4 linked regions of the Homo sapiens genome follow. The protein of the gene in region 3 purifies or fractionates together with the protein of the main gene of each other region. This does not show direct contact. Each region holds a gene or a part of one and is shown on either strand. Other genes may lie near its edges. The genes, in order: HSP90AB1, NCL, LRRK2 and DNAJA1.

Region 1 (4,314 bases), on a different chromosome or scaffold from region 3:
GTCTTGCCCTAGCTGTGCTCTGCCACCTTCCAGACTCACTCCCCTCTGCAAATACCTGCATTTCTTACCCTGGTGAGAAAAGCACAAGCGGTGTAGGCTCCAATGCTGCTTTCCCAGGAGGGTGAAGATGGTGCTGTGCTGAGGAAAGGGGATGCAGAGCCCTGCCCAGCACCACCACCTCCTATGCTCCTGGATCCCTAGGCTCTGTTCCATGAGCCTGTTGCAGGTTTTGGTACTTTAGAAATGTAACTTTTTGCTCTTATAATTTTATTTTATTAAATTAAATTACTGCAGTGGACTTGGTCCTGTGTTTTGGTTGACTGAAAGGGCATTATTATATGGTAGTTTTTCCAAACTGCCTTTAGCTTCAGTGTGTGAACTCTTAAGACTCACTGGTATTCTGTTATTTTCACTACAAAACCAGCTCAACTTGCTGTGCTCATGAAAACAGCAAGAGCTGGAGGGATGAAGAAGCTAGGGAAGGATAACATCCACTTCACAAGGGAAAGCAGAACTGTATAAAAACGGCATATTCTTTATTTTGCATACTTTAATTTCAGAACAAAATGAAGAAAATAAAATAAACCACAATACACAACATCCAATCCTGCTGTCAAGAGTAGAGAGGGAATGGGGCTTGACACCCTTAGTTTACTGCCTTCAACACAAGGACAGGAGAGGGAAAAAAACACTAGACACCAGCAGGGGGAGCCAGGTGGGACAGGGGCACTCGAGGCTGCAGTGGGAGCCCATGGGGACACTATACAAGGGCACAAGTTTTCCAACTATGAACTCCTAACCTAATCGACTTCTTCCATGCGAGACGCATCCTCATCGCCCTCGAGAGGGGGGATCTCATCAGGAACTGCAGCATTGGGTTCCTCTGCTGCCACTTCATCTTCATCAATACCTGAAGTAAAATTAAGCCATGTGAGACTTGACCAAATAGCATTAAGTCAAATCCATAGAGGAGACGAGTTGCACAAACTCCTTGCCACACCAAGTACCAAAGCTACTTACCTAGACCTAGCTTGATCATGCGATAGATGCGGTTGGAGTGGGTCTGGGGATCCTCAAGGGAAAAGCCAGAAGATAGCAGGGCGGTTTCAAACAGCAGCACCACCAGGTCCTTAACTGCCTTATCATTCTTGTCGGCCTCAGCCTTCTGCCGCAGCGTCTCCACAATGGGGTGGTCAGGGTTGATCTCCAGGTGCTTTTTGGCCATCATATAGCCCATGGTGGAGTTGTCCCGAAGTGCCTGGGCTTTCATGATCCGCTCCATATTGGCTGTCCAGCCGTAGGTGCTGGTCACAATGCAGCAAGGTGAAGACACAAGTCTATTGGAGATTGTCACCTGTGGACGATCACAAAAGCCTTAGATTGACATTACCACTTTGAAAGAGAAAACAGGCATTGTCAAGCCTAATTCCAGCAGGGGGAGGAGGTGGACAGACCACTTGAGTTTGAGACCATGCTGGCCAACATGGCAAAACCCTGTCTACAAAAAATTAACCGGGTGTGGTAGCACACATCTGTAATCCCAGCCACTCAGGAGACTTGAGTTTGCAGTGAGCGAGATCCAGTCCAAAAAAAAAAAAAATCGGCCAGGCATGGTGGCTTGCGCCTGTTAATCCCAGCACTTTGGGAGGCCGAGGTGGGCGAATCACAAGGTCAGGAGATGGAGACCATCCTGGCTAACGCGATGAAACCCCATCTCTACTAAAAATACAAAAAATTAGCCGGGGTGTGGTGGCGGGCGCCTGTAGTGGCAGCTACTCAGGAGGCTAAGGCAGGAGAATGGCGTGAACCCAGGAGGCGGAGCTTGCAATGAGCAGAGATCGTGCCACTGCACTCCAGCCTGGGTGACAGAGCGAGACCCCATCTCAAAAAAAGAAAAAAAAAAGAAAATGATGGTATTTTATCTACTCTCAGAAGTTAACTGAAGCAATGCCTAATCTGTGCCAAATTTTATTAAAATAGCCTTAAACCTGACTAGAGAAGAGAACAAGAGGCAAGAAGGCATGAAACAGTAAATAGGCTGCCTCAAACCACTAATTGTATAGAAACATGCTTGTGAGGGAGCCCACCTCGAAGATGTTACAAAATATATCCTAGCCCCAGAATGGCTTACCTTCTCAACCTTCTTATCTAAGATTTCTTTCATGAGCTTGCAGAGGTTCTCAAACTTTGCCTTGCTCTCTTCCATCTTCTTCTTCTCCTCCTCATCCTCAGGCAGCTCCAGACCCTCCTTGGTAACTGAGACCAGGCTCTTCCCATCAAATTCCTTGAGCTGCTGCACACAGTACTCGTCAATGGGCTCGGTCATATATACCACCTCGAAGCCCCGTTTCCGCACTCGCTCCACAAAAGCTGAGTTGGCCACCTGCTCTTTGCTCTCACCTGTAGGGTAATTAAATGAACTCAGTGACTAAAATGCCTCATACTGCCAGTTCCCAGGAAGCCCTAATTGTGCTCCCCACTCCTCCAAAAAGGCTTCAATCAGAGTCAACGCACCAGTGATGTAATAGATGGACTTCTGTGTCTCCTTCATGCGAGAAACATACTCTGACAGAGATGTCATCTCATCTCCAGACTGGGAGGTATGATAGCGCAGCAGCTCAGACAGGCGGCGGCGGTTAGTGGAGTCTTCGTGGATTCCAAGCTTGAAGGGTGGGAAGAGGAAAAACAATCCAGCTTAACTACAATAACTTCACTTTCAATGTGAATGGAATAATTTATTGTTATTACTAAGAAAGTGGTAAAGGGAATAAGCATTATTTGCCTTTTTACCTTGAGATTTTTAGAGAATGCCTCATAGAATTTCTTGTAATTCTCCTTGTCTTCTGCCAGCTCAGAGAAGAGCTCAAGGCACTTCTTAACAATGTTTTTGCGAATGACTTTCAAGATTTTGCTCTGCTGGAGCATTTCTCGGGAGATGTTCAGGGGCAGATCCTCAGAGTCAACCACACCACGGATAAAATCTGCCATCAACCAGGGTGAGAAAGCTCAGTAAAAAACAGCTAGACCAGACCTGGTCCCCAGATTCAAACAGAAGGCTCTAATAGCCTCCTGAACCCTTACACCTACTATGTATTGCAGAAAACTGTTACCTTAGAATATCCTAGCAGAATGCCTAAAACCTCCCAAGACTTCACCCAACTAAATTAGGCCAAGGAGATACTCACTGAGATACTCTGGTATCAACTCATCACAGCTGTCCATGATGAACACACGGCGGACATAGAGTTTGATGTTGTTCTTTTTCTTCTTGTTCTCAAAAAGGTCAAAGGGAGCCCGACGAGGAATAAATAGCAATGCCCTGAATTCCAACTGACCTTCTACAGAAAAGTGCTGAAAGAAACCAAAAATAAGTGGTACATTTCAAAAGAGGACCTTTTAGCCCCAACACCAAATTATCTAAAAGTGGAACAATGATCCTCCCTAAGCCTAAGGGATAGAGCACACACAACAAGCAGCTCCTGAGAAAACTGAGCCTTAATGCCCTCCACGATCTAGATGGGTACTAGCTGTATGTAGAAAACAGTCCCCTCTGATCAGAACCCTGGATGTGTAAGGCTGCCAATAGACATTACCCAGATTTCCATAAGAAGAGAAAGTGAGGTCATTAGAAATGATGGCACTTCACTATGACAGGGTAATCAGTAAGTGAAATCACATGGCTATCACATTTCTGTTATCAGTTGGACAAGTTCCGTGTGTCTATTACCCAACACTCTTCCACCTAACTCATTCCTCTCCATATGTGCATGTTGAGCCAACATGCAAAGGCTTCTCACACCTTGACTGCCAAGTGGTCTTCCCAGTCATTAGTGAGGCTCTTGTAGAATTCTCCATACTCCTCTTGGGTGATGTCATCAGGGTTTCTGGTCCAAATAGGCTTGGTCTTGTTTAGTTCTTCCTGATCAATGTATTTCTCTTTGATCTTCTTAGTTTTCTTCTTCTTATCCTTACCGCTGTCATCCTCCTCATCTGAACCCACATCTTCGATCTTGGGTTTTTCTTCATCATCTTTATCTTCCTCTTCTTTCTCACCTTTCTCTTCCTCTGCCTCATCATCACTAATTTCCTTCTCTCGTTCCTTCTCCAACTAAGTAACAAAAACAGAAGTTAGCCTTGGAGTACAAAACACTACCAGGGAAAGCAAAAGCCAGGGACAATGAGATTCTCCAGAACAGGAAACATCCTGCACGTTAAGTGTAAAAGATTTAAAAGTCCATACTCACATAAAGGGTGATGGGATAGCCTATGAACTGAGAATGCTTCTTCACTACTTCTTTGACCCGCCTCTCTTCT
Region 2 (7,849 bases), on a different chromosome or scaffold from region 3:
GAAATGGCAGGTGGCAGGCCAGGCGTGGTGGCTCACGCCTGTAATCCCAGCACTTTGGGAGGCTGAGGCAGGCGAATCAGGAGATCAGGAGATGGAGACCATCCTGGCTAACACAGTGAAACCCTGTCTCTACTAAAAATACAAAAAATTAGCCAGGCGTGGTGGTGGGTGCCTGGAGTCCCAGCTACTCGGGAGGGAGGCTGAGGCAGGGGAATCGCTTGAACACAGGAGGCGGAGCTTGCAGTGAGCCGAGATTACGCCACTGCACTCCAGCCTGGGCAACAGAGCAAGACTCTGTCTCAAAAACAAACAAATAAAAAATACAAAAAGTAGCTGGGCGTGGTAGCAAACGCCTGTAGTCTTAGCTACTTAAGGGACTGAGGTGGGAGGATCACCTGAGCCTGGGATGTCGAGGCTGCAGTGAGCTGTGTTAACACCACTGGACTCCAGCCTGGCCAACAGAGTGAGTCCAAAAACACACACCCACACCCCCACACACCCACACACCAAAAAACACAAAAAAGTGGCGAGTGACAGCTGAGGAGATCACTGTAGTGGGAACCCCAGGAGGGGGTGAGGAGGGGCTCGCTGGCACAGGGGAAGGGGTGCTATAGAGAAAGACTCTGGTTTCCTTGGGGCTTTGGAGTGGCAGAGAGAGCTCAGGATGTCTGCAAATGTATAGAAATCAGAGGGTGGGAATCCCTCTGGGAGGTTTGTCCTTCCCTATGAAGGAGAAGATAGAGTAACTCTGTTGACAGGGAGGGCAGAGAAGGAGAGGTGAGGGGCCTGAGGGAAGAGGCTTGGCATAGAGGCTGGGGAGAGGGAAATGAGAGCGTTCAGGAGCTCCTGGAAGATGATCTGGGCTAGCAGCTGGGGCTGCTACCAGGGCAGCTGCTGGGAGGGCAGGGCATTTGGAGGCCCCAAATCTGCATCATCACAGATTTCTCTCCAGCAGGGCCCAACCTCCTGGATGGAGAGGCCTGGGAGGTGCAGCAGGGAAGTTGGGGATGACGTTGATCTGGGGCCCACAACACCCTCCTCCAGCAGGCTCAGGGGCCTGCAGTTGTTGGCAACGGGCTGACTCTACCTCTGGGTGAACAGGTGAAGCTTCTCGGGCTGCCTCGGGAAGACAAAGGCTGGGTTCTCTGGCTCCGGCTCCTGGGACCCTGAGACACAGATGCCTCCTCTGGGAAAGGCTCGCTAACACACTAAGCAAGGCCTGGCAAGGGAGGAAGAGCTTAGGGTCCCCCTTTGACATCTGGGGGAAAGTGTTGGGGAAGATCTGGGCAGTATCCAAAGGCCTCAGTGAACCCAAAGACAGAAGGAAGACAGAAGGAGGCTGGACTGGTAAAGGGAACTTCATAGCAGACACCCCAGGCCTTCACACTCAGCAGACCTGGAGCTCTGGAAGCTGAGGCTGTGAACTCCCTCCCGGCCAGCTGGGGTGCCCAGCCCTGCCCTGCTCGGCCTACATGGCAGGGACTCACCCTGCAGGCTTTGTGGGCTGGGTGCTGGCTGGGTCTGGCCAGCCCTACCTGCAACTCAGGGGGAGGAGCAGGGGAGACACAGGATGTCCCCAACCTCCTGACCTTCTGAAGCTTCCCTGGCATCAGCCCGGGCCCTCATCATAGCCTTCAGTGGAAGAGCCTGGAAGGGGGGCAGCTGCTTCCTGCTCAGTCCCCTCGGCTTCTCAGCAATTCTATCCCTCATGTCACCACGTCCCTGCGCTAAGCTCCCTCTTTTTTAAATACTCAATGTGATTTTTCTTGGCTAGTTGGAGCCTAACTGAGACACTTATTTCCTAGAAGCCCAGTCCTGGGAAGTGGAGTTAATCCTTGGAAGCCTGCAGACCCCCTCCAGTGGGCTGTCAGATCCTAGCATGAGTATGAGGCCCACTATGGCCTACTGGGTCTCAGGGGTCAGAAGTGCCCATGGGTGTCCCAAGTGGGTGCCTCACTACACAGGTTTCATGGGGGGCAGCCAGACCACAGCAGCAGACAGAGTTGGGCCGGGTCCATGCAGGCCCAAAGAAGCAGCCAGTGGCCACTCAAGGCAGTGGTATCCCTGCAGCTTCTTGGCTGGTGTCTGAGACTAGTCACACTCCCCACAATAATTAGAGCCATGCTCACACCTCTCACCACCATCTAGTTCTTCCTCTGCTAAAACGTGGAGCACTGTCTCCCAGCCTTGGAGCTCAGGGGCAGCAGATAATCTGAGCCAGCTGGAGCAGGTGGGGTCGCTCTTGGCTGGAACGGCCATGGAAAACCCCAACCAAAGACAGCACTTGGGAGAACATCTATGAAAATGTGAAAGTCCATACCCTTGACCCAGCTGTTCTACAGATATGATTTGTGTAAAATAACGTAAGTGAGAATATTTGCTATAGCAGTTTGTAATGGCCAAACATAGCAAAAAACCCTAACTATCCAGCAATGGTGACTAGATAAATTGTGATCCTTCCACACAAGGAATGCCATGTAGCTATTAAAAAGAATGAGGCAGCTCTACATGTGCTGATGTAGGATGAGTTACAAGATACATATAGTTAACACAAAAGAAGAGCTCAGAACAGTGTATATGATAGCGTTTGTATTAAATATAACAAATATACTTGTCTATTTGCACGTACGGCTGAATCTGGAAGGATATACAAGAGACTGCCACTGCCTTGAGACTGGGAGGCCTAGGGGACAGGAACGGGAGGGAGACCTTTTATTGTGCATCTGTTTGAATCTTTTGAATTTTGCACTATGTGTATACTTTACAATTCAATAAATACTCATGTTTTCAAAAGAAAACAAAAAAGCATTTAGAAACAAACAGGCCAGACGTGGTGGCTCACCTTTGGGAGGCTGAGGAGGGAGGATTGATATAGCTGGGGATGTCAAGGCTGCAGTGAGCCATGATCCTGCCACTGCACTCCAGCCTGGGTGACAGAGTGAGATTCTGTCTCAAAAAAAAGAAACTGGGATGACACAGCAGTGTCTTCACTTATATCCTACGCCTCCACTGCTAGCTATGCGACCCTGGACAAGTTAATTTACCTCTATGTCCCAGTTTCTGTAAAACAGTGGTAACTTTTTGGAAAGGTTATTTTGAAGAGTAAGTTAATTAATATGTAAAGAGCTGGAAGAGCGCCTGGCACTGAATCAGCATTATGAAGTGTTAGATATTGCTATTTTGCTGCCCCAGACCAACTCCAAAGCAACGCCACTTGAGCCATGCCGGCTCTCCCTGCTGCTGCTTCTACCTAAATACTTCATTCATTTAACAAATAATTTTATTTTCTTTCTTTTTTTTTTTTTTGAGATGGGGTTTCGCTCTTGTTCCTCAGGCTGGAGTTCAATGACGCGATCTCGGCTCACTGCAACCTCCGCCTCCTGGGCTCAAGCGATCCTCTCACCTCAGCCTCCCGAGTAGCTGGGACTCCAGGCGAGCGCCACCATGCCCGCTAATTATTTTTTGTGTGGAGACAGGGTCGCATTATATTACCCAGGCCGGTCTCAAGTTCCTGGACTCAAGCGATCCTCCTGCATCAGCCTCCCAAAGTACTGGGATTACAGGCATGAGCCATCGCACCCGGCCTTAACAAATGCTTTTCTTTCTGAGACGGAGTCTCGCTCTGTCGCCCAGGCTGGAGTGCAGTGGGCGATCTCGGCTCACTGCAACCTCCGCCTCCCCGGTTCATGCGCCTCGGCCTCCCAAAATGCTGGGATTGCGGATCTGAGCCACCGCGCCCGGCCTGAGGTGATTTTTAACAAGTACAGCCGTAGCTGCAGATATCCTGGTTCTGTAGGAACAATGAGGTATGGATGGATCCATAGCTGGACCTATGGATGGGATGGATCCCCGGCAGGCCCTGGACGGAGGGAAATGCTCTGGTTTGCTAAGCCCGGCATCGAGTGAGACCCACCCACAAAGCTAACCGTGGAAGTCACTGGCGGCCTCCTTCGCCCTGCCGCCGGGGAACCCTGCCGGTGGCTCTCGACCTGCTCCCGGGCCATCTGGTGACACTGACTTCGCAGCCACCACCTTAATTGGCGCATTCGACCCAAATAATAACCAGGGAACCTGTGGGCGGTCAAAGGCCCGGCTCTGCGGTCGGCCCTCCCAGGCCCCTCTCCCTGCCCTGTGAGGCCAGAAAGTTACTTCTCCGAGGCCGTTCCCCATGTCGAGAAATATCTCCCGCTTGAGGTTCTGTGGGGTAGGGGAGGTTCGTGCATTTCTCACAGAAAACCTCGCACAGACCCGCGACTGCCTTTATTAACAGCTCTCAGGAGACTGCCTGCAGCCGGGGGGTGCCTCCGGCCCCATGCTCGCGGGCAAGCAGGGATAAGCTGTGCCTCCAAAAGGGCCAACGGGAACTCCGCGGTCCCTGAACTTCCGGTGCTGGCGGACTCCTCGCTCCAGGGCCACCAGGAGCCGCGGCGTGAGTGCGTGCCGGGACCGAGCGCGGGGTCTCTGAGGAACTCCAAGGCTGCCCAAGCCTACGGACCCAGCCACATTGGCGAACCGGAGACCGCCCGATTCCACCACCCCCGCGCTCCCCTCACAGCCGGCGCCAAAAACGCCAGTCCCACGACGCAGGCCGGGACCCGCGCGCCCACGGCCCAATCAGCGCGGACCTTGCACAAAGCGAGCCCCGCCCCCACGGCGCCGTTGCCAGCCCCTCCCCCTCCCGTGGCCGCCTCGGCCCGCCTACTCCCCGCCCCGCGCCGTTCACGGTTAGAGGCTCGCGATTGGCTCATGGGGACGGCCGCGAGCTTTGGTTGGTCGGCGCGGAGTCACGAGGGCGCCGTCGTCGCCTTTCCACAGGCGATTACTGGGCAGGCTCAGTCTTTCGCCTCAGTCTCGAGCTCTCGCTGGCCTTCGGGTGTACGTGCTCCGGGATCTTCAGCACCCGCGGCCGCCATCGCCGTCGCTTGGCTTCTTCTGGACTCATCTGCGCCACTTGTCCGCTTCACACTCCGCCGCCATCATGGTGAAGCTCGCGAAGGTAAACGGCCTTGAGCGCGAGCGCAGACGTGTAGGCCTGCTTTCCGAGGGGCGAGCGCGGCGCCGCGGGGAGGAGGGCCTGCGCGCAGTCCCGGGCGCGTTCTAGGGCGCCATGCTGCGGGAAGTCTCGCGCGATTAGTGGGGAGGTCTCGCGGCTTCTGGCTACTTGGTGGCGAGGTGAAGAGCTTCTGCAGGTGCTGGGGGCGGCGAACGCGGCGGGAAAGACAGAGTCACTGAGCGCGGGGAGGGGGCGCTGGGCCTCGGGGTGGAGAGATGAGACCAAACTTTTGCGACGCGTACGAGCTGGGACTCGACTCCTGACGCACGTGCCCGGGAGCGCGGCCTGCCACGTGGGCCGCGCCGCGTGGGTCCTGGAATCTCCAGAGGGACCGGGTGCCTTGGGCCGGGAAATGGCGGTATCGGCCCTAGTCGGAGTCCCGGCTGCGCTCGGATGTCTCCGCCCCGGCCTGGCAAGCCGACACGTGGTGGGCCCCGGAAGGTGGCTCTGCCGCGTGCCTTTTGCGCTGTGTTTCGGGCACGTGGTGGCCTACCAGGTACCCCCACGTGGCCGCGCCGCCTCTTTAAGGGGCGGGGTTGTCTCGCTGGGAAAGGCATAAGCTTCATGAGAAAATCAAGGTAGTCATTTTTTTAAGTGCCTTAATGATCTTCACCGTTAATTTGGATTCAGATGAGGGTGGTAGAATAAAGTACCGGGATTTGTAGTATTAAAACACGGTTGTGCTTAACTAAGGTAACGGGAGGAGAAATCATTTCCTCAGGTTGACTTTTTACCTTAGGGCAGGTTTTCTGTTGGTAAAGCCTGGGAGGAAAAATGTGGGCGGTTGAGAGTAGTCCCTCTTGCATTGCCATCAGGAGTAGTTTCTATGTTAGTTGTGGTGTTTGGCACTATGAGAAATGGATCTGAGGACGGAGATGATGGCGTATGAACACTAATGGCAAAATATGAATGGCCTGAAATGTCGAGGTGGAGGTGTAATGATCTATTTGTGTCCATTTTAGGCAGGTAAAAATCAAGGTGACCCCAAGAAAATGGCTCCTCCTCCAAAGGAGGTAGAAGAAGATAGTGAAGATGAGGAAATGTCAGAAGATGAAGAAGATGATAGCAGTGGAGAAGAGGTAATTTTATCCAACTTAATGCAGAATTATGTTAAAACTACAAAATGGAGAGTTAAGACATGAAATTGGATATCTGTGGCAAAAATAAGATTTTATTCAGGTATGTCTTATTGTAGTGGTTGAGTGTTTCACAAGCTCTTCATTGACATGTCAAGATGTCATTTGGCTAAGTATTTGAATGTGAGTGTAAGACGAGATCTGGGAATTTCTTTTACATGTTCCTCTGCAGGGCTTGGAGTGTGATTTGTTGTGTTAAATCATTACATTTTTCCAGTTTCAACATGTTAGCCTCACCCCCACATGTAGAGCTGGGCATTGTATTCAGAGCTGAGGATAACCTTACCAGATTCCTTTCCTAGCCTCCAATTAAAATTAATTGGTCTCCATTCCATTATATATAAACTTTGTAATACTACTCACTGTGTTTTATAGTTATCTCTGGTGTAGACTGAGGGCTGCCACCTCTCTTTGTGTTACCATTGACCCTCTTTAGCACTCCTGGCCTTTTATTTGCTCACTATAAAGACAGCTGAGCACTGAATTGTGCTCAGGTTTCTCGTTGAGAACTGAATGAAAGTTTTACTCTTCCACACATTGCCTGATAAAACTACGGGATTTTAATGTAGCTAAATGATGACTTTTATCAAACTACCATGCACACTCTTTGATGTGTGATAGTTTTGTAAGGAATATTTATATTTAGCCTATTCATTTTTTGTCTCAGGTCCTAAGAATTGAGCTTCACTGGGCTTGGTACCGCCACCCACTGTAGGAGCCCCAAATGATTTAATAAGTTAATGCTTGGAGCCTCCTATGTGTAAGGTTCTGAATAATTTACACATAGCAATTCATGATCCTTAAACATGTAAGGATGATACTATTACCATTTTCAGATGAGAAAGTTGGGGCTTGGGAAAGTATGAGGTGTAAGAATTCAGAGGGTCTGGTTCAGAGGTATTTTTAAGTGTTCAAAAGAGTTCCTTATGTCTGGGTATTCACCTTATGATAGGGGCTCTGACTTAAGACAACATAACAGAAGCCTGGAGTTTAACATGCTAATGTGTCTAGTGCATGTGGTCTTGAACCAGAGGCATTGCCAGAGTCTAACATCTCATTGGGACCATGGTTATCTTTTTGGGTGTGGGGCTGGACTTACTGGTTTGGTTTTCATTTATTCTCAAGGTCGTCATACCTCAGAAGAAAGGCAAGAAGGCTGCTGCAACCTCAGCAAAGAAGGTGGTCGTTTCCCCAACAAAAAAGGTTGCAGTTGCCACACCAGCCAAGAAAGCAGCTGTCACTCCAGGCAAAAAGGCAGCAGCAACACCTGCCAAGAAGACAGTTACACCAGCCAAAGCAGTTACCACACCTGGCAAGAAGGGAGCCACACCAGGCAAAGCATTGGTAGCAACTCCTGGTAAGAAGGGTGCTGCCATCCCAGCCAAGGGGGCAAAGAATGGCAAGAATGCCAAGAAGGAAGACAGTGATGAAGAGGAGGATGATGACAGTGAGGAGGATGAGGAGGATGACGAGGACGAGGATGAGGATGAAGATGAAATTGAACCAGCAGCGATGAAAGCAGCAGCTGCTGCCCCTGCCTCAGAGGATGAGGACGATGAGGATGACGAAGATGATGAGGATGACGATGACGATGAGGAAGATGGTAAGGAGTTGTCTTGGTAGTTACTGGGCTTCTGATTACAAGGTATCTTGAGATTCT
Region 3 (7,031 bases):
ATTTATTTTCATTAATTAATGAACGAAAGTAACTGGTATTTATAAGAAATATAACATTGTGTTTTAAATAGTTCTTTAAAATACACATTTACTGGTAAGTATTTTTACATATATTTAAATTAAAAATAATAACATTCCTTCATACACACGAGCTATTTCAAAAAATGTGAGTACCCTTTCCATGTGAACATTTTTAAAATAAATATTTACAAGAGGAGAGAATAATTTTCCTATCCAAAGACAATTCCTATTTCTCTCTTACTCAACAGATGTTCGTCTCATTTTTTCAGCTAATTCTTTTCTCACTTCAATGTGTTTTTCTAAATTTTGCACTTCATGTGGAAGATTGATGTCCCAAACGGTCAAGCAAGATTGTATCTCTAGAAAAAGAAAAAAATGAAATCATGTTTCAAAGATCCATCATAAAACATTCTTATTTTATTTCAGTTTGGCTCATGTATTTTTAGTTGACTTAGATAAATGTAAATATAAACACAGCTATAACTAATGTACTAAATTATTATTTATAAAAAACTATACTTGGAAAAGTTTTATAATACATTATAGAAACTATTAAATTTCAAATAGAGTATCAACATTTAATAAATTAACATTTCATATTCTAAAAGAAATAAAAGCTTTTTCAAACACTGTTCAAAATTAGACATTATGTAGATATAGATAAGTTGTAAAAAATATTCACATTTCGTTTAAGGTTGAGCTAGTGATTGACACCTCTACTTCAGCTGAAAATATAAATATTTAACACTTCATATCACTTGTAATTTTGAAAATTTATGTCTAAGTTCTTTACACTATAAACTACCAATTAAAATTCCTGATTATACCATATGTAATATTTTCTACAAATTTATGAAACACATAATATGTTACCATCATTCACATCATTGCCCTGTTTGGAAAACAGTATCCTTCTAAATGTTACCTTTCTGCTTTTGTGTACCTTCAGTATTTTTCCGGTTGTAGCCCAATACCAGCATGACATTTTTAAGGCTTCCTTTACAAAAACAAAATATGTAAGTTTTCTGTTAAAACTATATATTAAACTGGCCTGAAAAAAAAGTAAAGTTGTTCATAGTTTAAGACACAAATACCTTGGAACTGAATTCACAATTCTATTTTCTAGGTGACCCTTCAATTATATTGAATAAAGACCAGCATTTTTTTAAAAAATAACAAAATCTGTGATCCACTCCTTGCTGCAATTCTTAATTATGTGAGTCTGAGAAAACAGCTTAACCTTTCTATAAAATAGGCTCAGTATTTATACATTACCCTTCCCAAAGTTACAATGTTAAACGAGGTAATGTGTGTGAAAAGTTCTTTGGATATGGTAAGGTACAAATATGAGTATTTAGTACAAATATGAGTATTTAGATGGACACTTAGATGGATGGATATACTGATACTATGTCAAAATATCATATTTTCTTTTCAAATCATTCACTAATTTATTCAACAAATTTGCATCAAAAGTCTTCTATGTAGGCCCTAGGCTAGATCCTGGGAAAAAAGGGGTAAACAAAAACACACTAACCCAACCGTCTTGGAGTTTATATTCTAGTGAAGAGACTAGCATTAATGAAAAAAAAATATGACCATGATCAAAACTATGCAAGAAAGCTGTTATGGGAACCCAAAGCGGGAACTTTGACCTAATCAGTGTTGGCTTCTCAGAGGTTTTGACACAGGAGCTAACATTTCAAAGCATATGAGTTAAATAAGCATGAAAAAAAGCTATGTTAACTAAGCAAAGAAATAAACAGCATGTGCAAATCCCTGAGGCAAAATATAGCATAGTAATTGAGAAGAACTGGATGTTCATCTAGACAAGCAAGATCTGGTAGGAATGTGGTAGATGATGGAGGCAGGAGAGGTACAGTGAAGCCAGCTCATGCAGCACCTTGTAGGCTATCCTCCAATTGATCTTTATTTTAAAATCAAACTATAACCCATAGACATTCCACTATAACTTCAGTTATAAGCAAGCTATTTGGGTCCCAAAGTACATACAATTCAACTAGAGAATGCAACAACTTTGGTAGAATAAGACTACTGAGACAACCTATTGAGAGACCTACTGCTCTGCTTGTGTGGACATGTATCTTAATAGTTTACAGTCATTAAGAGCATCTAATTGTAACTCCTGTGCAACTCTAAAGTCTATAAATGAAAAATAGGTGAAGGTGCTAGAAAAACACATGTTCCTCTTTCACATATACTTGCAATGAATATATTTTCTTCACCATGTTCAAAACATTCATTATTTGCTAAAGTTACATAAATTCTAGTTTTTTTCAGAATTAAACCCCATAGTGTCGTTTTTGTAAACTTTTGTATATATGCTATTATTGTTATTTTCTAAAACAAATTATTATCAAAGGAAGACGCAAATATATTTATGCAGAAAATATATTTTATGTGCTATCACAATTTTATCATATTTAAATATAAAAATAGAAGCAAAAAAAGACAAAGTTTGAGTAAAATATGATTTGTCAATATTTGTAGGTTGTGCAGTTCAGCATGTATTGCTGCAAGAAAAAAGATTTGTTATAGAATGAAAAACCAAATGAGATTCTTTAACAAGCTGGGAGGCTAGACTATGATTAAAACAAACATTTTCTTTATTTTCTTTGCTCAAAAAGTAAAATATATTCAATACCATGTATTTCCCATTTTTGCCTTAGGTAAAAAGGAAAAAAGCAAGTAAGACCCAAACTGAGTGTTCAGCTGCAGTAATCTGCTTCTCTTGTGGGACTGAGAGCATTTACTCCCTCCACTTCTGTAATGACCCTATTCACAATTTATACCAGTCTTATGTTTCACTGTGTGACCCTCCAAGACCATCCATATGACACTGGAAAGTTCAGAGAAAATGTAAACGTAAAATAAAGGCATATTTTATAAGACTTAGAGAATATGAAAAATATCTAAAGGAAAGAAACTTGCCTAGCTGTGCTGTCATCATGACTCTGACCGAATTACAAAAGTTGTAAATTACACGTATAAGTCGACGAGTTGAAAGATCCAGGAGTAAAATATGGCCTCCTCCAGTTCCTATCCAAAGAGCAGTGTTCTTCTGAAGGCAGAGGGTTTTCACTCTCCCAGAATAAGACATTTTGTGTTTTGATTCCTTGTTTTCTTTTACCATTACCTCCCTAGAACCATAAAGTATACATTAATAATTTTACCACCAATTAAGAGATAAATGCTATTTACATATGATAACATAAACAACATTTTAAATTATTAAAACATGACACCACCACCATTATGCATCATTAAAATTATACAAAGCAAATTTTGCTAAATACAGATGCCAAAGAGCCACACTTCTTTACTTGAAGCATAAATTATCAAAGATAACAATAGCCCTTCATTTTCAGGAAATTATGAATAAGAGGGATACAATTTTTATAAATACCAAAGCTATCTAATTCAGTAAAAATAGCATACATGTGCCCAGGATAAAGAAAAAAAAAAGTTAGAGTCAAAAGTTTTACATGAAGTCTCAATGTTACAAAGGAACATAAAATTATAGTCATTCACATGTAAAAGATATCGATACAAACCACTGAATTTTTTCCCAGAACCAGTGAATAGTCTAATTCATGACAAAAATGAAGTGTCCAGAAATAAAAGAATCCTAATCGTTTTGGTACTTCAGGAAGTAAGGAACCCTTTATCAAGGAGACCTGTTGGCCCTTCTGAACATAAACTGTGAGCCCTTCTCACAATCCATAGAAAAACTGTCAGATGAATCTAAGACAGGAAACTTTGAAGTATCCTTTTACAGATATAGTGTGTAATCTAAAATGTTCTCAAGAGTATCATAGATCTATATGGTAAAATCAAAACAAAATAAAAATATAAAGTGGCTAGCAAATAAGCTTGAAAATGGTCCTGTTTCTCAGCACCAGCACAGAAAGAATGTGCTTGCTATGGATTTGTCACTCACAGGCTGCATCAGACTAAGCACTATGCTCTCATTCTGGGGTCTTGATCCCCACTCCTTAGCGCCTCGGTCAGTCCATTGCATTTCCCCCCATATTTGTCTATTATTTTGTGACTCTTTTTCTTTAGAGCAGATAATCCTGGGGCCCATAATTTAATTATAAATAGTATATTTGACACTGTGACAGAACTATGTCAAAGCTAGCAGAGACTCCAATATGCTCATTTTCAATAATGTAGTATTTTCATTCGAGAACATTCTTTGTAATACCATGAGAAAACTATGCACATTATGTGCCTATTCTTTTATGTTCTGAAGACAAAATTTTCTTGATCTGAAAAGATGGTGCTGAGAAGCATTACAAATTTTTTTCTGCATTTTAAAAAAATTCTCTATTCAGAGGCAGAAAGGAAGAAAAATCCTTCCTCTGTGACACATGAAGTGCAAAGATAATTCTTTTGGGAATAAAATTAAAAACCACAGAATTTACCTTAAAAAGTGCACGCAGTCTATTAGTCCACAGAGTTTTTCAGTTTTCTTATCCCACACTTCCACAACAGGGCTATTTTGCTTAGCAATATAGAGAGCAGTGTCTACCACCACTGTTATGATGTTGGAATCACTGAAAGCTGCATAAGAAAACCTACAGAGAAAAAAAAATAGAAAGTCATCACTATTTGTTTTCTTCTTAAAATTTCTACGTGTAATACAACCTTATATTAGTTCTTAATGTAAAAACACTATTTTGAAAACTAAACAAGCTAGACTATTGCAATTATTTCATATTCTTCCCTAACCATTCTGAATTGAATATATAACATGCTTTGGTACTTTACTTACTTTTGGTTACTTTATATTAATTTCTTGTGATAATAAAATAAAGATTATGTCCAATGTTTACTTTGGTCTTACTTTTAGTTTCAATTCTATGTGGCTCTTTGTAGAATTTTGTACTATATCTAAATTTCTGAAGGAAATATTATATCTGTAACTTTTGAATGTTCTTGCAAAACTTTGTTTCATGAATGCTCAGAAAATTAAGTGTTAGCCTTTTATACCTAGAGTTATAAAATATAAAATGCTGAAATAAAATTTAGTTGCAGTGTCTTCAAATTTTAAAGCAAGGGATATCTTTGCAGTTAAGCCAGTCAAATTATAGAAAACAAAAATCCACATCATCCAAACATAAACAGAAAGTAAAATATTTGCCATTTTCCCCTTTTAAACATAAAGAAAAATTACGAACACCTTAAAATATTTCCCTTTCAACCTAAGACATCTGGCATTGTACATATTTCACAAACAGATTGGCTACCTTGGGCCACATCAGCATGGCAAACTCCTACTTGGCCTTTGAGGATGAACTTAAATGTCGGCTCCTCTGGATTTCTTCCCTGACCTATCAAAATAGACCAACCAGTCCCTTTTCCCCACTGGTGTCACTGTCATATTATAGACCTTATTAAATATAAAATTGTCTTTATTAGTGCATCCCTCACACTAGATTATGAGTGTAATTTCATAAGGATGAGGACAATGTATTTTCTACATACCCCTCGTCCAGTAAACAGTTGCACAGATAAGCACCTCTGATATAATCAAGCAGTCTGTTAAGTGGGGGAATAGAAGAAGGCACTACAGTATGAATGAACAACGAGGAATATGTAAAAATAGTCAAAATTGCATTTAAATCAGATAGATAACATGAAAATACCATAAAGATTTAACAATCATTAGTATATCCTAGAGTAGGAAGATTTTTTTTCCTCCCCCTTTTCTTTCTATTCTGGAAAAGGAGGTAAAAATATGATGTGTTGTCAGAGAGCCACTACGCTTTAGGTAATTCCTTCTTGGATATTTGCTGTATTTAATAGAAAATAGTTCCAATTAGGACAAAGTTTTGCATGGAATTTCCGTATTTTATAAAATACTTTTGTGTGTTATCTTGCTTGATCCTTAATAAAAAAACATAAAATATGATAAATCTCAATGTTTTTAATAGTAGAAAGAAACATGTACAAATGCTAAATAATTTGCTCAAGGTCCTATGACTAACATCATGCTTGCCGACCTAGGACTAAAAACATGTTGCAGACCTAGAACTCCAAAAGTCCTATGGAGTCTTCCGGCTTCAAAGGCAGTCATCTTTCATTACCCAACATGCCTCTCAGTCGGTGTGTACTGATGATGATGAGGGTACTGATGATGAGGCAACCCCTGATTAGTGATGTGATGTCTGTTTTGTGGGGTAGAGACCAAGGCCACAGGAGATACTTGTTCAGAAGAGAGCAAATATTTATATTTAAGTGTTTATGCATCTAGGTCCCAATCTCTTTTGGGAGATGAGCATCTTTGAGAGCTTGATCTTTATGGATGCTCTCTAGTAAAGCATCTATGCTCCAAATCTTATATGGAACTTTAAAGAGTTAACTGATATCCATAATCCCATAAAATGTGCTATGAAATAAAAAAATAAACTGGAGGCCCTTTCTTTTTAAAGGTTTTCAGGCTTGTATAATTGGGTTAAAAGTGGAAATTACAGGAAGGGGAGCAAAGATGAAAAACTACCTATCAAGCACTATGCCCACTTTCTGGGTTGTGAGTTCAGTTGTATTCCAAACCTCAGCATCACGCACTATACTTTTGTAACAAACCTGCACATGTATTCCTGGAATCTAAAATTAAATTTGAAAAATAAAAATAATAAAAGACATTTTTACATTCATTTTTTAAAATGTGGGTATTACAGAATGAGAATGAGTTGATCCAAATGTTAACCACATACTAGTAAATAAATATGTAAAGACAGAAATAAAAATCCTCATTCATGGGAACTTATAATACACTGCACTCCGCAGTATATCTTAACCTCAAATATACTTTAGAATCACTTGAGAACCTGAAAAAAAAAATCTGATCCCCATCCCAGGCTTAACTGGTCTGATTTAATTGGTCTGAGGTAGGGCCCAGGTATCATATTATTTTCAGCTACCTAGTGGTTTCTAAATGCACAGCCAATGTTGAAAGCCAGTAGATTTAGTGGTATTGAGAA
Region 4 (7,172 bases), on a different chromosome or scaffold from region 3:
CACAATAAAGCTGAAACAAGAATAGATAGATGGCAGGCAACGAACCAGTTTTCAGCCCTGGCTCTGTTGGCTTGCTATATGAGCTTGAAGAAGTTTTAGGTTTCTGAACTTTAACTTACTCCCATTTGAAAAAGGCCACTGTACCTACCATCAAATTCCTTTGGGGAGTGAGGGAACACCAAATAAGATCTGTAAAAAGGGCTTGGAAAATTATATTGCTATATACTTTGTCTTTTTTTTTTTTTTTTTTTTTTTTTGAGACAAGAGTCTCGCTGTGTTGCTCAGGCTGGAGTGTAATTGGGCGATCTCAGCTCACTGCAACCTCCACCTCCCGGGTTCAAGCGACTCTCCTGCTTCAGCCCTCCTGAGTAACTGGGATTACAGGCACGCACCACCATGCCTGGCTAATTTTTGGATTTTTTTGGGTTTTTTGTGACAGAGATTCACTCTTGTTGCCCAGGCTGGAGTGCAGTGGCGTGACCTCCGTTCGCTGCAACCTCTGCCTCCAGGGTTCAAGCGATTCTCCTGCCTCAGCCTCCAGAGGAGCTGGGATTGCAGATGCCCACCACCACGCCCAGCTAATTCTGTAGTTTTGTAGAGATGGGGTTTCACCATCTTGGCCAGGCTGGTCTCGAACCCTGACCTCAGTGATCCACCCACCTCGGCCTCCCAAAGTGCTGGGATTACAGAATGAGCCACAGCACGCGGCCTGTTCTCATAATTTGTTTGATAATATCTAAGATTTTTGGAAGCAGTCATTTGCTACCACTCTGTTGGCTATTTTTTAGGCCCCTTAAATCTCATTTTAAAAAAAGCGACACCACTGGCTGGGCATGGTGGCTCACACCTGTAATCCCAGCACTCTGGGAGGCCAAGGCAGGTGGATCACCACCTGAGGTTTGCAGTTCAAGACCAGCGTGACCAACATGGTGAAACCCCATCTCTACTAAAAATACAAAATTAGCCGGGTTTGGTGGCACATGCCTGTAATCCCAGCTACTTGGGAGGCTGAGGCAGGAGAATCGCTTGAACCCGGGAGGTGGAGGTTGCTGTGAGCTGAGACCACGCCATGGCTCTCCAGCCTGGGCAATAAGAGGGAAACTCCGTCTCAAGAAAAAAAAAAAAAAAACCACAACAAAAAAACACGACACCATAAATCAGAGGCAATTTGTGGTCAGTTTGCAACATTATACCAACATGTAAACAAGCATTTAAAATGGGTGATTTCTCAAAGATCTGCTCTGACCAACAGCTAACTTTAGTTAGCTGCACAAAGACTAGATTCTTCTTACCTCTCCTTTCTCTCTGCATCCTTCCTCCTCCTCCAAAAAACATATCAAAGATGTCCATGGGGGAGCCAAAACCGCCACCTGCTCCACCCTCTTTAATTGCCTGTTCTCCTCCTTTGTCATATAATTCCCTTTTCTTTGCATCAGAGAGAACTTCGTAAGCTTGAGAAATCTGTTTAAACTGTTTGAGAAAAGAGGAGTGAATTTCATTTTTTAAAAAACAAGTGTTACCTAGCTACATTACACTTGATCTTAGCTAAAAAGGCCGAGAAGTGATCATAGTTACTATATTAGATACTCGATTTCAGGCCATAATAGAAATACTATACGTCTGGCAAAGAACTATTCAGATACGTTTAAGAGTAGATACTATTCACCTTCTCTCCTTCATTTGGGTTCTTATCAGGATGGTACTTCAAAGCCAGTTTCCTATAAGCCTTTTTCAATTCTTCCTGAGTAGCATTGGGTTTGACCCCCAAAACATCGTAGTAAGTTGTTTCTTTCACCATCTTCTACTGCCTGAAATAAGAAAATGCAACTTTAACCGGCTTTCAACTGGTAGCTTTTAATAAAAAAGAGAGCTAAGGCCGAGCAATCTCTTTGCAAAATCCGATTATAAGAACACCACCTTCCCTAAATTTCACCAAAAAGGTAACAATTCCTGCGATAATTCAGCTATAAACTCGAACAGACAAAACAAATAATCATTATCGGGAAATAATCTGAGAGCCGCCTTCTAGCAGCTGGTTCCAATTTTCCTACACCAAAGCTTCCATACTAATATAACACAACTATTATCTGGATTCTTCCCGTTTGCCCTAGAGGCGGTGACAGTTGTAACCAAAAGAAGCACTGATATGTTCAGTCTACCGGTCATTACACTATCACTGTCTTTGGCAAATCTGATAAACTCCATATACTCTCCAGAAAAAGACGTCTGGGCACACAGTGGTGGGGGGGAGTGGTTTATAGAACAGGTTACTGGCTCCACACAGCAAGCCCTCCACCGCCCACGGCTTACAGCTTCTCCAGCCGAATCCCTCTCGCCCCTCAGGCTGGCAGAGTTTACCTGCCAGGTTTCCCCTTGCACTTGGCGCTGACCGATTTCCTTCCTTTCTCCCTCCCACCCTGGACCCAAGTGGCGGTGGGGAAAGCCCAGCCCTCAACAAACAAAGGGAGGGGAAACAGAGAAAGCGAAACCAAAAGCCGCAGTCTCCGCCCGGCTCCCCCCGCAGCCCCTCGCCCCTGCCTCCCTGTGCGCGTGCGCAGGGTCGCCAACCCCACTCCCCCCCCCCACCCCGAGCGAGCACGGACGGGGAGGGGGGCCGCGGGGGCGCGCACGGAGGGGCAGCCGAAGACAGTAGCTCCTTGGAGATCCCAGGCTGGGGAAGGAGGGAGGTCTAGGAAAGGTCTCGGGCCCATTCACTGTGCGTGCCGGGGATGGGTTGCCAGGGCACCACACCAGCCCTCCAAAAGGGAAATCGTGGGCCCAGGAACTGACAGCGGTCCTACCCACGCGGCCAACTGCCTCCCGACCGCGGCTCCATCGGTTTCCCGGCGCCAATGGCGCCAGCCAGGGGACTAGGGGCAGCGCGAGGGCTCAAACTCACCGGTGCGGGCTGAGGCCGGTGTGTGAGGGAGCGGGAAGGAGCGCCGAGCTGTGCGCAGCCGGGGTAGTTACCGCTCCTCCGCCTCTCACCGAGCGTTCTGGAAAGTTCCGCCCGGCGCGCCGCAGCCGTCCTCTTTTGTAGCCGAACCCGGGCGCGTCACCCGCCGGAAGTCCCGCCCTTCTCGGCCGCTGCCACCGCCCCGCCGTTACCTGGGCAACGGCGCGGGGGCGCACGGGTCGGGAGGAGCTGCGCCGAAAGGCCTTGTGGGTGTTGGTGCTAGCGCGGCTTCCCGGCGCTCGTGGAATCTTCTGGAGCCCTTTTCTCCACTCAGCGAGCCTGAGAGTGCGGAAGTCTCCGGCTGGTGGGGCATGGCCCAGGAGCACTGCAAGTCCTAGGGTTCCCAAACCTGTGGGGTGGCCGCCTGGGCCCGCGAGGGCGGGAAGGGCTCGAGTACAGTGACCCAGCGGGAGCTGTGTGTGAACGGGAAAGCTCTTGGAACAGTCTTGCCCCCCCCCCCCCCCCTCTTACGGGCGCCTCTTCTCTTTTTGGGAACGTGGCGAGCAAAAAATGCTTGAGCCAGGTGGGTCTAGTCCCCAGACCAATAGCATAGGCCTTGGGTCTTGCTGTTTTTCACGCGTGGTCCAAGGCGGCATAATTAATCAAATTGTGAAGTTGTTAAGGCTTTTTGTGCAAGTCCAGGCCCCTAGACACATGTTATCTGCCCTGGACCTCGCTGATTCGTGCAGATTGAGCTCAGTGTGTCTGGGACTGAGCTAAACAGTGAGACGTTTGGACCGTCTTTGATGTACAGAGGGCCGTGGACTCCTCTGGTCAGGTTTTCACCCAGTTTGGCTACAGAGTAGCCGCAAGAGTGTCTGACTAAAACAATTTGTTTAATTATTTGACCTCACTTTTAAATCCTACGGGTCAGGGAACCTGGATGTACAATCTGCAACGTAAGACCTCGGACTTGAAAATGGTACCACGGGGGCTTAATGGGAATTGGGGTCCGCTTCTTTATCCAGGGACACAGCAGGTATGTCAGTATCTAGCACCAAGAAAGATGGAGTTTGCCACGCTCGGTGGCTCACGTGTGTAATCCCAGCACTTTGGGACGCCAGCGTGGGCTGATTGCGTGAGCTCAGAAGTTTGATACCAGCCCAAGCAACATGGTGAAACCCCGTCTCGATTTAAAACAAAAACAGAACTGGAGATGCAGAGTTGAAAAGCCCCAGTTAGACTTTAGTGAGAAGCCAAACAAGTCAACAGACTGCCAGAGAAACCATGAGGTAGAAGTCAGTAGGGGAGAGCCTCCTATATTAACCTGATAGATCAGAGAGAATTTCTTTGGGAAAGTGGCAATTGAGCTGAGTTTTGAAAATGGGAGGAGAGCAGTGGACAAAGCACAGGGGAAGGCTATACTAAGGTGTGGAAGAATATGATGTTTTTAGGAAATTGCAACTAATTGGATATAGCCATAGCTAAGGGAGCTAGAATAGCCGGAGGTGAGGCTTCAAAGCTAGTTAGGGCATGCCTTTGTCTGTTGGTATATATGCTACGCTAAGAATTTTGAACTTTATCCTTGGAAGCATCCTCATGCTGCCTCTTCAGCCTTTTCTCTTTCATTAATTTTAACTGTGCATTCCAGTCACAGAACTATCCGCAGTTTCCCATATACGCCTTTTCACCTTTGTATGCTTTTGCATTGGCTGACAGACACCTGATTTTTTTCAATCTTAGGTGTTGCCTTCTCAAGTATCACCTCTGGTATAAAGTTTTTTGTTTAAACCAACCGTTAATAAACGTCTAATATTACCAGGCAGTGTACTAGGGCTTTGTAATACAAAAATCACGTAAGTCAGGCCGGGCGCCGTGCCTCACACCTGTAATCCCAGCACTTTGGGAGGCCAAGGTGGCGGATCACCTGAGATCCGGAGTTCTAGACCAGCCTGGCCAACTTGGTGAAACCCTTCTCTACTAAAAATAGAAACAATTAGCCAGGTATGGTGGCACGTGCCTGTAGTCCCACCTTCTCAGGAGGCTGTGGCAGGAGAATCGCTTGAACCTGGGAGGCGGAGGTTGCAGTGAGCAGAGATGGTGCCGCTATACTCCAGCCTGGTTGACAGAGCAAGACTCTGTCGAGTCTCAGAAAAAAAAAAAAATCACATAAGTCGTGGTCCCTGCCTTCAAGGAGCTCACAACATAGGGAACCAGAAACAAACAGTTGAGTGTTAAATGCTAATAAAGGAAGAGTAGGGGGTGCATGGTGGCTCAAGCCTGTAATCCCAGCACTTTGGGAGGCCAAGGCAGGCGGATCCCTTGAGTCCCGGAGTTTGAGACCAGCCTGAGCAACATAATAAGACCTCGTTTCTACAAAAATTAGAGTTAGTGTGGTGGTGTGGGCCTGTACTCCCAGCTACTTGGGAGGCTGAGGCAGGAGGATGGACCTGGGAGGTCAAGGCTGCAGTGAGTGGTGATTGCACCACTGAACCTCAGCCTGGACGACAGAGCAATACCCTGTCTAAAAACGAAACTAACAAAAAAGTTAACACTTTTAAGAAGCATTCTTACGTAAAATAAAATAAAAAAACTGGCAATAACTTTGTATGTGGTCTTCGTTTGTACAGAAATGGGATCATTATACAAGCTGTTTACAGCTTGCCCTTTTCACTTTGTCATCTTACTATGCCAGGATAAATAACTAATCTGCCTTGTTATTTTTAATGGCGTAGTATGTAGGCACCGTAATTTATTCCCCTACTGATGAATATTTCAGCAATTTCCAGTGTTTTACAAACTGCTGCAGAGAAATTAGCAAATACAGCTTTGAGTACTCATGCAAGTATTTCTGTTGGATGGACAGCTAGAATTGAAATTGCTGAGTCAACATGAATGTAGATTTAAAATTGTAATAAATAAGTTTCCATACTGGTTTGTAACTGCTTCCAGCAGTGTGTGAGTGGGCCTTGCCAATATGAGGGCCTTTTGTTGTTAAATCTTTGCTAAGCTTGGAGATAAAAAGTGATATCTTATTGTTTCGAGTTTCTTTGTTAGTAAGTTTAACCATGTTTTAAATGTTTACTGACTCTCCTGTCAACTGTTCATATTATTTTACCATTTTTCTGTGGTGTAATTCCACTATTTTAATAATAGCCCTTTTAGGGGTAGATATTAGTCTGTCATGTGTTACAATTGTTTTCTTTAGTATATTCTTCGCTTTTTACTTAGTATCTATATATATATTTTTCGGCCATATAAAGATTTTAATTTTTATGTAGATAAATTGTGACTCTTCCTTTTTGGCCTTTTTCTTCTCTCCACCTTCCCCTTCATCAGTCCAGCATTATAAATATAAATCTGTTGTCCCAGGTTTACAGGTTAGGTCTAGTACTTTCATTGTTTCCCTTTTTTTTTTTTTTTTTTAAATTAACAGCCTTGATGTGTTGCCCAGGCTGGCCTCGAACTCCTAGGCTCAAGTGATTCTCCTGCCTCAGCCTCTTCAGTACTTGGGACTACAGACACCTGCCACTGCATCTGGAATCATTGTTCCATTTTAAACTTAAATTTTTTATTCCATCTGAAAGTTATTTTGGTGTAAGGACTGAGGATTATTTGTAAGTAACTGATCTTTATTTTTCTCCAAATGGCAAACTAGTTTGTCTAACACTAATCTTATTTTTCCTGACTAATGTGAAATCCGCCCCCCAACCTTTTTTTTGTATGTGCAGAGATAGGGTCTTCCTATGTTGCCCAGGCTGTTCTTGAACTCCTGGGCTCAAGCAGTTGTCCTGCCTTGGTGTCCCAAAGTGCTGGTATTATAGGCGTGAGCCACCACACCTGGCCACCACTTTTAATGTATACTTAATTTCCACTGAAATACATGGTACTACTTCCCTTCATTGTTCTTGCTTTTTAGAATATTCCTTGTATTTTTTTTAATATGTTTATTCTTCCAGAGGAACTTAGGAATATTTCTGGCAGATTCCCCCCAAATCCCATTGTGAGTTTTATTGTGATTACAGTGATTTTATATATCAGTTTGGAGAGAATTAACACATTTAAAATGTCGAATCTTCCTACTCATGAACATATAACTGTATATTTATTTTCTTCATTTTTTAAACTAGGTCTTCATCATTTCTTCTTAAATGTGTTACTAGGCATTTTTTGTTGTTGCTGTCATGGATGGCCTCTTTTCTTACCATTATATTTTATTTCAGTGGGATATTTCATACTTTCTTTTTTTTTTTTTTTGAGACAGAGTTTCTCTCTT

The links.
Region 1: the proteins of LRRK2 (region 3) and HSP90AB1 purify together in Homo sapiens (co-immunoprecipitation; 6 studies listed by BioGRID and IntAct, with this or other methods). This does not show direct contact.
Region 2: the proteins of LRRK2 (region 3) and NCL purify together in Homo sapiens (co-immunoprecipitation; 3 studies listed by BioGRID and IntAct, with this or other methods). This does not show direct contact.
Region 4: the proteins of LRRK2 (region 3) and DNAJA1 purify together in Homo sapiens (co-immunoprecipitation; 4 studies listed by BioGRID and IntAct, with this or other methods). This does not show direct contact.

Annotation. Positions count from the first base shown.
Region 1 is NC_000006.12:44,250,085-44,254,398, reverse strand, and holds the end of HSP90AB1 (heat shock protein HSP 90-beta), read right to left. Parts: coding exon 4,245-4,314; intron 4,109-4,244; coding exon 3,800-4,108; intron 3,352-3,799; coding exon 3,186-3,351; intron 2,982-3,185; coding exon 2,791-2,981; intron 2,663-2,790; coding exon 2,515-2,662; intron 2,401-2,514; coding exon 2,132-2,400; intron 1,355-2,131; coding exon 1,021-1,354; intron 911-1,020; coding exon 801-910; 3' UTR 516-800; downstream 1-515. UniProt on the Homo sapiens protein: Molecular chaperone that promotes the maturation, structural maintenance and proper regulation of specific target proteins involved for instance in cell cycle control and signal transduction. Undergoes a functional cycle linked to its ATPase activity.
Region 2 is NC_000002.12:231,461,483-231,469,331, reverse strand, and holds the start of NCL (nucleolin), read left to right. Parts: upstream 1-4,847; 5' UTR 4,848-4,978; coding exon 4,979-4,996; intron 4,997-6,015; coding exon 6,016-6,132; intron 6,133-7,314; coding exon 7,315-7,792; intron 7,793-7,849. UniProt on the Homo sapiens protein: Nucleolin is the major nucleolar protein of growing eukaryotic cells. It is found associated with intranucleolar chromatin and pre-ribosomal particles. It induces chromatin decondensation by binding to histone H1.
Region 3 is NC_000012.12:40,360,993-40,368,023, reverse strand, and holds part of LRRK2 (leucine-rich repeat serine/threonine-protein kinase 2), read right to left. Parts: exon of another isoform or gene 4,840-7,031; intron 4,623-4,839; coding exon 4,470-4,622; intron 3,183-4,469; coding exon 2,974-3,182; coding exon of another isoform or gene 2,891-2,973; exon of another isoform or gene 1,019-2,890; coding exon 947-1,018; exon of another isoform or gene 381-946; coding exon 259-380; 3' UTR 1-258. UniProt on the Homo sapiens protein: Serine/threonine-protein kinase which phosphorylates a broad range of proteins involved in multiple processes such as neuronal plasticity, innate immunity, autophagy, and vesicle trafficking.
Region 4 is NC_000009.12:33,021,111-33,028,282, reverse strand, and holds the start of DNAJA1 (dnaJ homolog subfamily A member 1), read right to left. Parts: upstream 3,011-7,172; 5' UTR 2,900-3,010; intron 1,809-2,899; 5' UTR 1,799-1,808; coding exon 1,667-1,798; intron 1,471-1,666; coding exon 1,293-1,470; intron 1-1,292.